Homo sapiens: one gene and its partner. The protein of the gene in region 2 interacts with the protein of the main gene of each other region in a pairwise test. Each region holds a gene or a part of one and is shown on either strand. Other genes may lie near its edges.

Region 1 (4,026 bases), on a different chromosome or scaffold from region 2:
AGAGACCAAAGGAGATGGAACTAGTAAGGGAGGGCTGAGCTTGAAGAGGGCTGAGCTCCTATTAAGAGTGAACTTTTTCCTTGAATTAAATATTAATATTTACTTCATAAGTGGGAGAATAAAAGTGGGCAAGTTAATTAGATAGAGGAATTAATTTTGTTTACCTTTGTAGTACTGCAAACATAAACAGCTCCTAACCCTGTGTACACACTCCCTATATATATGACGGCACGTCCTCTACCATGTGTATCGACACACACACTACTCCTAAACACTCTTATCTGTTTAGCCAGCCAATTAACGTTAAACCAATGTTTGGAAGAGTGCATGTCTCCTATAAACATGAGTAATGTATTTGCCATAAAAATAATGATTAGAATGAATTAATCCATCTGATATGTGTATTATATGGATTTAAACATGTTGTTTTAAGAGATTCTCATAACCCTGGATGCCACAGTTAAAAACGAACACTAGCACAAACCATTTTGCAATCTCTTAAACAAATAAAACTGCCTTGATTTAAATAACATTTATTTTACATGACCAAACACAATAAATAACGTAATATACAAGGCTTTATAATTATTGCACATTTGTAAAATATCTTACAGTGAGTTCATACATCCAGCAATATTTAAAGCACGAAGACTTTATTTACAATTTTATTTCAATATAATAACCAGATCCAATGGACCCAACAAATGATGAATTTATGTTAATTTTACCAACCAGCGTTCTCATCAATCATATATATTTTTTGGGGGAAATGTAAACATTACTGCCTAAAGTACCTTATATACATCTGTTAGCTGATCATAACAAAGGACTTTAACAATCTAAATAGGTAAAGCTGATAAAGGGTACCATATTTTGGTTTATTTTATTTAGCCTTAAATTATATATTAATATTTTTAAAAATGTAAACTCAGTGAATAAGAGCTGGTATAATCAATATTTTACATAAGTAGTCTCATGTTTTTAAAAACAAAAACAAAAACTTAAGTTTTAGATCATTGCTATTTCATTGGAAAGTTCTCTAATATTTTATGGTAATATTTTAATAGACCCCAGGAATTTCGAAATACTGTTTCCCCTTTATGTATTTTCCATTTGATGGAAATAATTTCTCCTGGAAAACTAATTCTTTCAAAAGTTTACTGAAAGCCTATATTTAGGAAATGATATTTTAAAATCCAGTGTCTTTAAAATAACAATATGATGGCAGGACACAAATCTGAAATAAACCACAGAAAATAGTGCCAATGTGTATGTATACATGAATATGTGTGTATCTCTTACATATGTATTTAAGAGCACGGATATATATATGCATATACATACATATACATATATATACACATACACAAACACATGTAGGTAGCCTACCTACATTTTAATACACGTACACACACATACCCACTTCGCTGGGTCTAAACATGCACTAGCAAGTTATTTTAGGGCTTCAACTCTTCAGAAAATCTCATTATGTGAGGAGCCAAGTGGCTCTGCGGGGAGCATTATGGAAATATCTGGGCTTGATTTAATGAGGCTGTTCACACTGGTGGAATATCAACTTAACAGAGAAAAGTCTACCCAGGGCGTCCAAGTTACCAAAATGAAAATCGGCAATTGAGATGATAAGAACGTGGCTTTCTTCTGCGAAATCACTTCAGGTAACAGAGATAACATTAAATAACATACATTCTATGCACCAAGAACAATGTTTTATGTACCGAGTCTCTTATCCGTCTCTCCTAATGACTTCCCTTAGCGGGTTGTTAGTACTTGACAGCAGGTCTCCGTGCGGGGAACTTTTCTCCAATTCCACATTCAAAGGAGGTCCATCAGAGAGCATGATTGGCAATTTTCGTCATAATCTGCACATTATTAGCATCAAACTTGACGTGGCAGTTAACACTAGTGGGTTTTGATGTACCTTTCTTCAAGTTCAAGGAAACCCCTCCAGTAGCCGGGTTGGCAGAGCGGGTCTCAGCAACCCAGCGGTGGCTTTGCAGAGGCGAAGGCGCAATAGACATGCGTGAGAAATATGCCAAGAACCATTTCACCCGAGGAAAAGGAAAGCGAGGAGAGAAGGGGACGAGGGACATAGAGAGTTCTAACTTAGAAAAGTGTCTAAGGAAATGCTTTAGGATAATATTAATATATCTAGAGATTCAAGTATTTCCCAGATCGAGTGGAACCCGGTAGTTGGAAAACTGAGCTGAAAACGCCTCTCCAAATACTACAGCGATCTATCAGTCTTACCCCTACCCCAACTCCCTTCCTTTCCCTTCCCTGGCCGTGGCAACCTCTTTTGCCATCACTTTTTGCATAAAATATGCAAGATGCTTCCATTCCATCAGCACTGAAACCAAAGACCAAAAGAGAGAAAGGTGTTGGACCGAAAAGGAGGCGGCGCAACGGCCACCCCTTCCAGCACCTCGGCTTTGTCCTTCCCGGGGAAGGCGGCCACATCCCTACCCGCCTTGCTCCTGAACGTAGTAAACAATCTCACAAACAACCACCGCTGCCCACGCTCTCCATCCGTCCTCCCGGCCTTATCAGACCTCCGTTCTCCCGCACTCTTCGGGCAGGGTCCCTAATAAGCTCAGGCTGAAAGAACGTTTGCCACCTCCCCCACCCTCGTTGAAAGAAAAGGAAGAAAAACAGCAGCAGCGAGAAACCTCCGGGGCGACTCCTCCCCCGCCCCCAAGCACCAGCGCACAGCATCCCCCTCTGTCTTTGTTGTGGTTCTCCGTTGCTTCGGGCCACGCCGTTCAGCCAAGCAACCCGGACCTGAGAGTGCACAGCCAGGACTAGCTTAGGGGGCGAGGGGTTGGTCTTTGGGAAACCAAGCGCTCAGGACAGAGGTGGAAAGTGGGTCCCGGGAGCCAGAAAAGAGAGAGAAGGGCAGACGGCTGGGTGGCAAATACAAAAATAGAAATAATTTAGGGGGATGCCCGCCAGGCTTTTGCGCCTGCTCCTTCTCCCCCAATTCGGAGCAGGTTCCCTTCGGCCTCCCGCGCCCCGGGGCGCCCCCTGGCGGCAGCGGCAGCAGCGGGCAACGCGCGGAGGGCTCAGGGGGCGCACAGGGGACTCCCGGGCACACTCAGAGAGGCGGGCGCGGCCCCCTGGCGGTGGCGACGTAGTTATCTGGTGAGCGGAGCCTCGTCCCTCTGGTCCGGCGGGCTCACGGCCGTCTTACTAAGCACCGCGGCCGAGTAGGGCAGGAAGCCGCTCTCGGAACGCGGCGCCGCCGCGCTGCAGCCGAAGTCCGAGCCTCCCCCGGCCCCGGCGCCCCCGCCGCCGCCGCCACCACCACCACCGCCGCCGCCACCGCCACCCCGGGAACCCAGGGCTGCGGCAGCTGCTGCCGCGGCTGCCGCCGCCGACTGACTGCTGTGGCAACTGAGGCACGAGCAGGGTGCAGAGCCGCCGCTGGGGGGCGCGCCGGCCGCCGCCGCCGAGGAGGCCGCAGCCGCTGCGGCTGCCGCGGCTGCCGCGGCAGAGGCCGCGCTGTTGAGCCCCGCGGCGGCCGCGGGAGCCTGGTAGAGACCAGGGTGGCGGAAGCTACACAGCAGCTCCGGCCGAGAGTAGGGGTGCGAGAGGGCGCGGAAGGTGTCCAGTGGCCGGATGGAAGTAGCGAAGGGCGACGAAGCCGCGGCCGCCGCGCCTGAGGCTGCAGCCGCGGCCGCCGCCGCCGTGACGCCCACGTGCGGGTAGTAGTGCAGCGGCACGTGCGAGTGGAAGGGGTAGGGCAGGCTTCCGGTGGCGGCCGCGTGCGTCATCATGTAGGTGTAGAAGCTGGGGTCGGCTGGGTGCGGCCAGGACATGGCCAGGCGCTGCCGCTTGTCCTTCATGCGCCGGTTCTGGAACCACACCTGCGGGGAGAGACGCGCCGCAGCCTGGGTTAGGGAGCGCCCCGTGTTCCCAGCTCCTGTCCCAGGACCTCTGCCCCTTCCGGACCTCTGAATGGCTTGGTCTACTTCTCTCCGACCAAGCCCAACCCCGAGTACCCTGTGG
Region 2 (7,656 bases):
GGAAAACCAAACATCGTATGTTCTTACTCAAAAGTGGGAGCTAAGCTATGAGGATGCAAAGGCATAAGAATGACATAATAGGCTGGGCGCAGTGGCTCATGCCTGTAATCCCAACACTTTGGGAGGCCGAGGCGGGTGGATCACGAGGCCAGGAGATTGAGACCATCCTGGCTAACACGGTGAAACCCTGTCTCTACTAAAAATATAAAAAATTAGCCGGGCATAGTGGCAGGTGCCTATAGTCCCAGCTACTCAGGAGGCTGAAGCAGGAGAATGGTGTGAACCCGGGAGGCAGAGCTTGCAGTGAGCTGAGATCATGCCACTGCACTCCAGCCTGGGTGACAGAGCGAGACTCTGTCTCAAAAAAATAAATAAGCAAATAAATAAAAAAGAATGATACAATAGGCTGGGTGCAGTGGCTCACACCTGTAATCCCAGCACTTTGGGAGGCTGAGGCAGGCAGATCACTTGAGGTCAGGAGTTCAAGACCAGCCCGGTCAACATGGCGAAACCGCATCTCTACTAAAAATATGAGAGTTTGCCGGGCGTGGTGGCATGTGCCTATAGTCCCAGCTACTCAGGAGGCTGAGGCAGGAGAATTGCTTGAGACCAGGAGGCAGAGGCCGCAGTGAGTTGAGATTGCACCACTGCACTCCAGCCTGGGCAACAGAGCATAACCCTGTCTCAAAAATAAAAATAAAAAATAAACATGCACTTACCATATGACCCAGCAATTGTACTCTTGGGCACTTATCCTAGAGAAACAAAAACAGGTTCACACAAAAGGCTGTACACTCATGTTCACAGCTGCTTGATTCACAATAGCTAAAAACTAGAAACAACTCAAATGTCCTTCAATGAGTGAACAGTTGAATGTACTTGTATTAGTCCATTTTCACACTGCTGATAAAGACATACCCGAGACCGAGAAGAAAAAGAGGTTTAATGGACTTACAGTTCCACATGGCTGGGGAGGCCTCACAATCATGGTGGAAGGCAAGGAGGAGCAAGTCACATCTTACATGGATGGCAGCATGCAAAGAAAGAACTTGTGCAGGGAAACCTCCCGTTTTTAAAACCATCACATCTTGTGAGGCTCATTCACTATCTGGAGAACAGCACAGGAAGGACCTGCCTCCATAATTCAATCACCTCCCACCTGGTTCCTCCCACAACACATGGGAATGGTGAGTTACAATTCAAGATGAGATTTGGGTGGGGACACAGCCAAACCATATCAATACTGTAGTACATCTACATTATGGAATACCACTCAGTAATAAAAAGGAAGGAACTACTGATACATGTAACAGTTTGGATATATCTCAAGGGATTATGCTGAATGAAAAAGAGTCAATAAAAGTTACATACTGTATAATTACAATAATTACATTTATGTAACATTCTTGATATAACAAAATTTTAGAAACAGAGAATAGATTGGGTGGGGCTGCAAAGGTAAGTTGTGGTTATAAAAGGGCAACTGGAGGGACCCTTGTGGTGATGGACCTGGGCTGTACCTTGACTGTGGTGGTGGATACAAGAATCTACACACCTGATAACCATATAGAACTAAATATACACAGAGAACACTAATACAAAATGAGGAATCTGAATGAGATCAATGGATTGTGTGAATGTCAATTACCTGGTTGTGATATGGTACTAGTTTTGCAAGATGCTACCACTGGGAAGACTGGGTAAAGGGTACACAGAATCTCTATTCTTACAATTGCATGGAAATCCACAATTACCTCACAAAGTTGAATAACCATCTCTTTTTTTCATCTGTGATGGAACAAGCAGGCAATATTCTACATTGTTTTAACAAATAAAGCAAACTATGTACCACTGTTCTGGTGGTAAAACCCTTTAACCATAATAAATGTCATCACGTAGCAAATGCTTCACTGTGCTAAACACCTGCTGACCTTATCTCGTGTAATCCGCTCAACGGCCCTAAGACTAGGGAGACACTGCTATCATTCCTAGTTCACTGAGGAGGGTCTGAGGCAAAGAGGTGAAGTGATTTCCTGGAGCTACCTGACCAAAGACTGGAACCAAGATTCTTAGAGGCACACGAAGTCCTTCTGGTAATAAATCTGTATAATTCTATTTGTTATGTTCAGCTGTCCTAACCCTAAAAATTAAAAACTGCCATCAAGCATACAGAATGAGTGTTAGCAACACCGGCACAGTGACAATTTTAAAGAGTTAGAAGGTCCTTTAGAGATTACACAGCCCATCGCCCTCATTTTTACATAAAGGGAATCAGGTGAAGTGACCTGCACAGGTGAGTCGCTGCTCAGAGACCGCACAGCACATTTAAAACTGTATCTCGGTTCAGTACTCAAGAAAAGGACACAGACTTATAAATGGTGGCAAAAACCGAGCTGTCTGGTTCTTCCGGTACCCAGTGCCGGGTCGAGTACAGAGCAGGCGCTCCATATTTACAAGACGAATCAATGACTGAATGAATAGCACCGCCAGGAGCCCCATAAAAGAAGTCCAGAAGACTGCGGGCTGTCAGTCTTCGCTGTGACAAAGAGCCTCCGTGAGGAGCGAGGATTAGGGCCGGACAGGGAGCGCCCTTCTAGTGGACGCTCGACTGGGCTGGGGCCGGGATGGAGACGGTGGGTGCCCAGGCCCTCCGTCTACCGCGGGCCGCGTGCGGGGCCGAGCGAGGACCCGGCTGGAGCTGGAGCGGGGGCGGGGCGGGGGCGGGGCCGAGGGCGAGCCGGAAGAAAGAAGCCGCAGGGCCCGCCCAAACAAGAATTTTCACCGTAATCCCGCCCAGAGTTTCTCCCACGGCCCCATGTCCGCATGGCGGTGAAGGTCGAAGACGCGCGACCCAAAGGGCCAGGTTTTCAGTCAGCCCAGCGTTGGCGACGGGCGAGGGCAGAACACAACCACCACCCTAGTCCCGCCCGGCTCGGGGCCTAGCTTCTCTACTCACAGCGTCGGAGGGAGGGAGGGAGGGAGCGAGCCAGCGTCCCCGCGTCTGCGGCACCCTGGCCGGCCCTTCGCCCTCCGACGCGCGCGCCTATTGGCCACCGCAGCCTCTCCCACATGGGGCGAAGGCGCGCCACTTCATTGGCCCCCGCGTGAGGGGCGGGGCTAAAGAGCGCGGGTCCTCGGCCGTGGAGGGTCAAGTGGCTTCTTCTGAGCGCTGAGGGAGGGGAGCGTGCGTAGGGGATGGTGCCAGCGCTGCGTTATTTGGTTGGTGCCTGCGGACGGGCCCGCGGGCTTTTCGCCGGTGGCTCCCCTGGGGCGTGCGGGTTCGCGTCTGGGAGGCCAAGACCGCTGTGTGGAGGTAGCCGCAGCGCCAGCACCAGGTGAGTGGCCGCTGGTCCTCCCCGCCGCCTGCGCTGCTGCCCCTCGCGGAGGCACCTGGTGGTGGACCTGTGCCCCTGTTCGTATTTCCCTGTCCCGGGGTGAGAGCAGGTTGGGGTCCTGTGGCACTCCAACCTCGGATCCCAGGAGCTACCAACCTGCAGGTTCATTCGTTGTATTTACGGGCCGGAGGAAAGGCAGTGTATAGAGTAGAGGTCGGGAGTAGCTCTGGCTTTGAACAACCCGTCCACTTTCTGTTGAACTCTGGGCTAGTTACTTAACCTCCTTAAAGGCTCAGTTGTGAATTGGACCTTAGTCTCTCCTGTAGGTGGTCATTTGAAGGATAAAAGGACCTAGCACACAGTATAAGCAATCAAATATGCTCTTTATAAGCTGGAGTCTTTGGCGTTGCTTGGAAGATCTGAATACAGTCTTAAATCAGTTCCTGGCACACCCCGCATAGTGTTGCCCCCGTCGGAGGCAGCTCTTATGCTAATGAAAGCCCGCAGAATTCAGTGTCCTGTGATTTATAGTTTGGACGTCACATTCGAAACCATTGTCTTTCTCTGTCCTCTGTAGAAGAAACAGTTTGTGTGAAGGCTGTAAGGCTTGGAGAGGTTTTGGCTATTTTGACGACTAGAAGGTGGGCCATATGAGTGTGACTGAAGTTTAGTGGAAGACATATGGTGTGGAATGACCCAGAAGGACTACATCACAGCAAGGTTTTTAGTTTATTTTAACCACACGTTGACTTTTATTCTAAGAGCCACGGGAAGCTATTTAAAAGGGTTTTAAGAAGAGGCTACGCTTTAGGAGGCCGAGGCGGGCGGATCGCCTGAGGTCAGAAGTTGGAGACCAGCCTAACCAACATGGTGAAACCCCGTCTCTACTAAAAATACAAAAAAATTAGCCTGGCGTGGTGGTGGGCGCCTGTAATCCCAACTACTCCGGAGCCTTAGGAGAATCGCTTGAACCTGGGAGGCGGAGATTGCAGTAAGCTGAGATCGCACCATTGCACTCCAGCCTGGGCGACAGAGCAAGACTCTGTCTCGCAAAAAAAAAAAAAAAAAAAAAAAGAAAAGAAAAGAAAAAAAGAAGAGGCTAATAATTAAATGTTGATGTTCTAAAAGTTGACTCTGGCTGCTGCGTGTTGGTGGATAGGGGGAGTAGAGTGGGATACCAGTAATAGCGATTGTGATTTGTTATGGGGCATGTGGACAGTTCTTTTGGGAAGCTTTTCTTAAGGAAAGAAAAGTAGGGCTAGTGAAAGTTTTGTTTATACTTAAAATGTTTTTTTAAAAAATTTTTGGAGTCAGGGTCTCACTGTGTTGCCAAGGCTGGAGTGCAGTGGCACAATCATAGCTCACTGCAGCCTCCACCCTCCTGGGCTCAAGCGATCCTCCCTCCTCAGCCCCCCTCCCCAATGCTTCCTGTCCTCCAGGAGCTGGGACCACAGGCAGCTAATTATTTTCCTATTTTTTTGTAGAGACGTTGCCCAGGGTGGTCTCGAACCCCTGGCCTCAAGTGAACCTCCCTCTTCAGCCACCCAAAGTGCTGAGATTACAGGTGTGAGCCACCGTGCCTGGCCTATACTTTTATTTTGAAGTAATTATAGATCCATTGGAAATTGCAAAAATAGTACAGGCCAAGCGTGGTGACTCAGGCCTGTAATCCCAGTGCTTTGGGAGGCTGAGGCAGGAGGATCACTTGAGCCCAGAAGTTTGAGACCAGCCTGGGCAAAATATAAGATCCCTTCTCTACAAAATAAAAAATAAAAATAAATAAACAGTACAAAGAGATCCCATGTACCCTTCACCCCATTTACCCCAATGAAAACATCTTATATAACTATAGTACAATATCAAAACTAGGAAATTGATATTGGCAAAATCCACGGACATTGTTCAGCTTTCATCAGTTTTACATATATTCGTGTGTGTGTGTGTGTTTAGTTCTATGCAGTTTAATCATATGTATTAATTTGTGTAACTACCACCTCAATTAAGATATGAAAATGTGGCCAGGCATGCTGGCTCATGCCTATAATCTCAGCACTTTGGGAGGCCGAGGTGGGAGGATAGGTTGAGCCTCAGAGTTGGAGACCAGCCTGGGCAACAAAGGGAGACGGCAAAACCCCTGCTCTACAAAAAAATTAAAAAATAATTAGCCAGGTGTGGTGGCTTGCTCCTGTAGTCCCAGCCACTTGTGGGGCTGAGGCAGGAGGATCGCTTGAGCCCAGGAGGTTGAAGGTGTGGTGACCTGTGATTACACCGCCGCGCTGAAGCCTGGACAACAGAGCAAGACTCTCTTAAAAAAAAAAAAAAGGGTGGTATAAAAATATTCTATTGCCACAAGGTTATCTGTTGTGTTACCTATCTCTTTATATTCACACCTTCCTCTCCATTCTTCCTAACTCTTGGCAACTGTGAATCTAAATTTTTTTTTTTTTTTAACACGAAGTCTCGCTTTGTCACCCAGGCTGGAGTACAGTGGCATGATCTTGGCTCACTGCAACCTCTGTCTCCTAGGTTGAAGGGATTCTCCTGCCTCAGCCTCCTGAGTAGCTGGGATTACAGGCATGTGCCACCACGCCCAGCTGATTTTGTATTTTGAGTAGAGATAGGGTTTCACCGTGTTGGCCAGGCTGGTCTCAAACTCCTGACCTCAGGTGATCCACCCGCCTCAGCCTCCCAAAGTATTGGGATTACAGGCATGAGCCACTGCACCCGGCCTGAAATTTTTTATATCACCAAATATTCAGTATAAAACTTTTAGAAAAAGGACAAGATCTTTGGACATAGAGATGACATCAAAAGCATGATCTCTAAAAGAAAAAAATTGACAAAATGGACTTCATCAAAATGAAAAACTTTTGCTCTGCAAAAGACTGTTAAGAGAATGAAAAAACTACCAAGACGTGGGAAAAAAATACCAGCAACTGCATATCTCCCAAAGGACTAATACACAAAATACATAAAGAACTCTCAAAACAAGCCTTTGGAGATTGGCTTTTTTTCACACAGCATACTATCCTTAAGATCCATGCAAGGCGTCGCCTGTATTGATAGCAGGTTTTTCAAAATTGTTGAATAGAATTCCATGGTATGGATACATCACAATTTGTTTAACCGTTTACCATGGGTTGAAGAACATCCAAGCTGCTTCCAGTTTTTGGCTATTACGAATAAAGCTACTATGAACATTCATGTTCAGGTTTTTGTATGAACATAAGTTTCATTTCTCTGGAATAAATGCCCAAGACTGCAGTTACTGAGTCATGTAGTAAGTCCATGTTTAGTTTCTTTTTAAGAAACTGCCATACTCTTTTCCAGAGTGGCTGTACTATTTTACATTCCCACCAGCTATGTGTGAGTAATCCAGTTTCCCTTCATTCTCACCAGCATTTGGGGTGATCACTTTTTAAATTTTAGCCATTCTGATAGAGACGTAGTGATATCTCATTGTGGTTTTTATTTACATTTCTCTGATGCAATGATGTTTGAACAATGCATTGACTAATGGTGTTGAACATCTTTTCATGTGCTTCTTTGCCATCTGTGTATCTGTCCTCTTTGATGAAATATTTGTTCATATCTTTTGCCCACTTTTTTTTTTTTTTTTTTTCTGAGATGGAGTTTCGCCTTGTTGCCCAGGCTGGAGCGCAGTGGCGCGGTCTCGGCTCACCGCAGAGGCCTCCTGGGTTCAAGCAATTCTCCTGCCTCAGCCTCCCGAGTAGCTGGGATTACAGGCATGCGCCACCATGCCCAGCCAATTTTGTCTTTTTAGTAGAGATGGGGTTTCTCCATGTTGGCATGGCTGGTCTCAAACTCCTGACGTCAGGTGATCCGCCCGCCTTGGCCTCCCAAAGTGCTGGGATTAAAGGCGTGAGCCATCGCACCCGGCCTGCCTACGTTCTAAATGGCTTGTTTTGAGAGTTCTTTTATGTATGAGTCCTTTGGGAGATATGCAGTTACTAGTATTTTTTTCCAATTTCTTAGTTTTTTTATCCTCTTAACAGAGTCTTTTTGCAGAGCAAAAGTTTTATGTTTTGATGAAGTCCATTTTATCAGTTTTTTTTCTTTTATGGATCATGTTTTTGATGTCAACTCTAAGTCCCAAGATTTTGTCCTATTTTTTCCTAAAAGTTTTAAAGTGAATATTAGGTGATGTAAAAAATTTTGTGTTAGTTTTTTTAACTATAATGGTAGTGTGTGTTTTTAGAGATGCCTTTTAGAAATAACATTGAAATATTTACAGATGAAATAATGTGGTGTTTAAGATTTGCATCAAAATAATATAATACAGGAGGGGATGAAATAGAGT

Evidence for each region.
Region 1: the proteins of DMAC2L (region 2) and EVX2 interact in binary tests that used the Homo sapiens proteins (3 or more experiments, as listed by UniProt).

What each region holds. Positions count from the first base shown.
Region 1 is NC_000002.12:176,076,955-176,080,980, forward strand, and holds the end of EVX2 (homeobox even-skipped homolog protein 2), read right to left. Parts: intron 3,885-4,026; coding exon 3,153-3,884; 3' UTR 518-3,152; downstream 1-517.
Region 2 is NC_000014.9:50,307,690-50,315,345, reverse strand, and holds the start of DMAC2L (ATP synthase subunit s, mitochondrial isoform a precursor), read right to left. Parts: upstream 3,023-7,656; 5' UTR 2,957-3,022; exon of another isoform or gene 1,083-2,956; coding exon of another isoform or gene 956-1,082; intron 888-955; exon of another isoform or gene 756-887; 5' UTR 720-755; intron 1-719. Other genes in the region: L2HGDH (L-2-hydroxyglutarate dehydrogenase, mitochondrial), read left to right, coding at 3,196-3,335. UniProt on the Homo sapiens protein: Involved in regulation of mitochondrial membrane ATP synthase. Necessary for H(+) conduction of ATP synthase. Facilitates energy-driven catalysis of ATP synthesis by blocking a proton leak through an alternative proton exit pathway.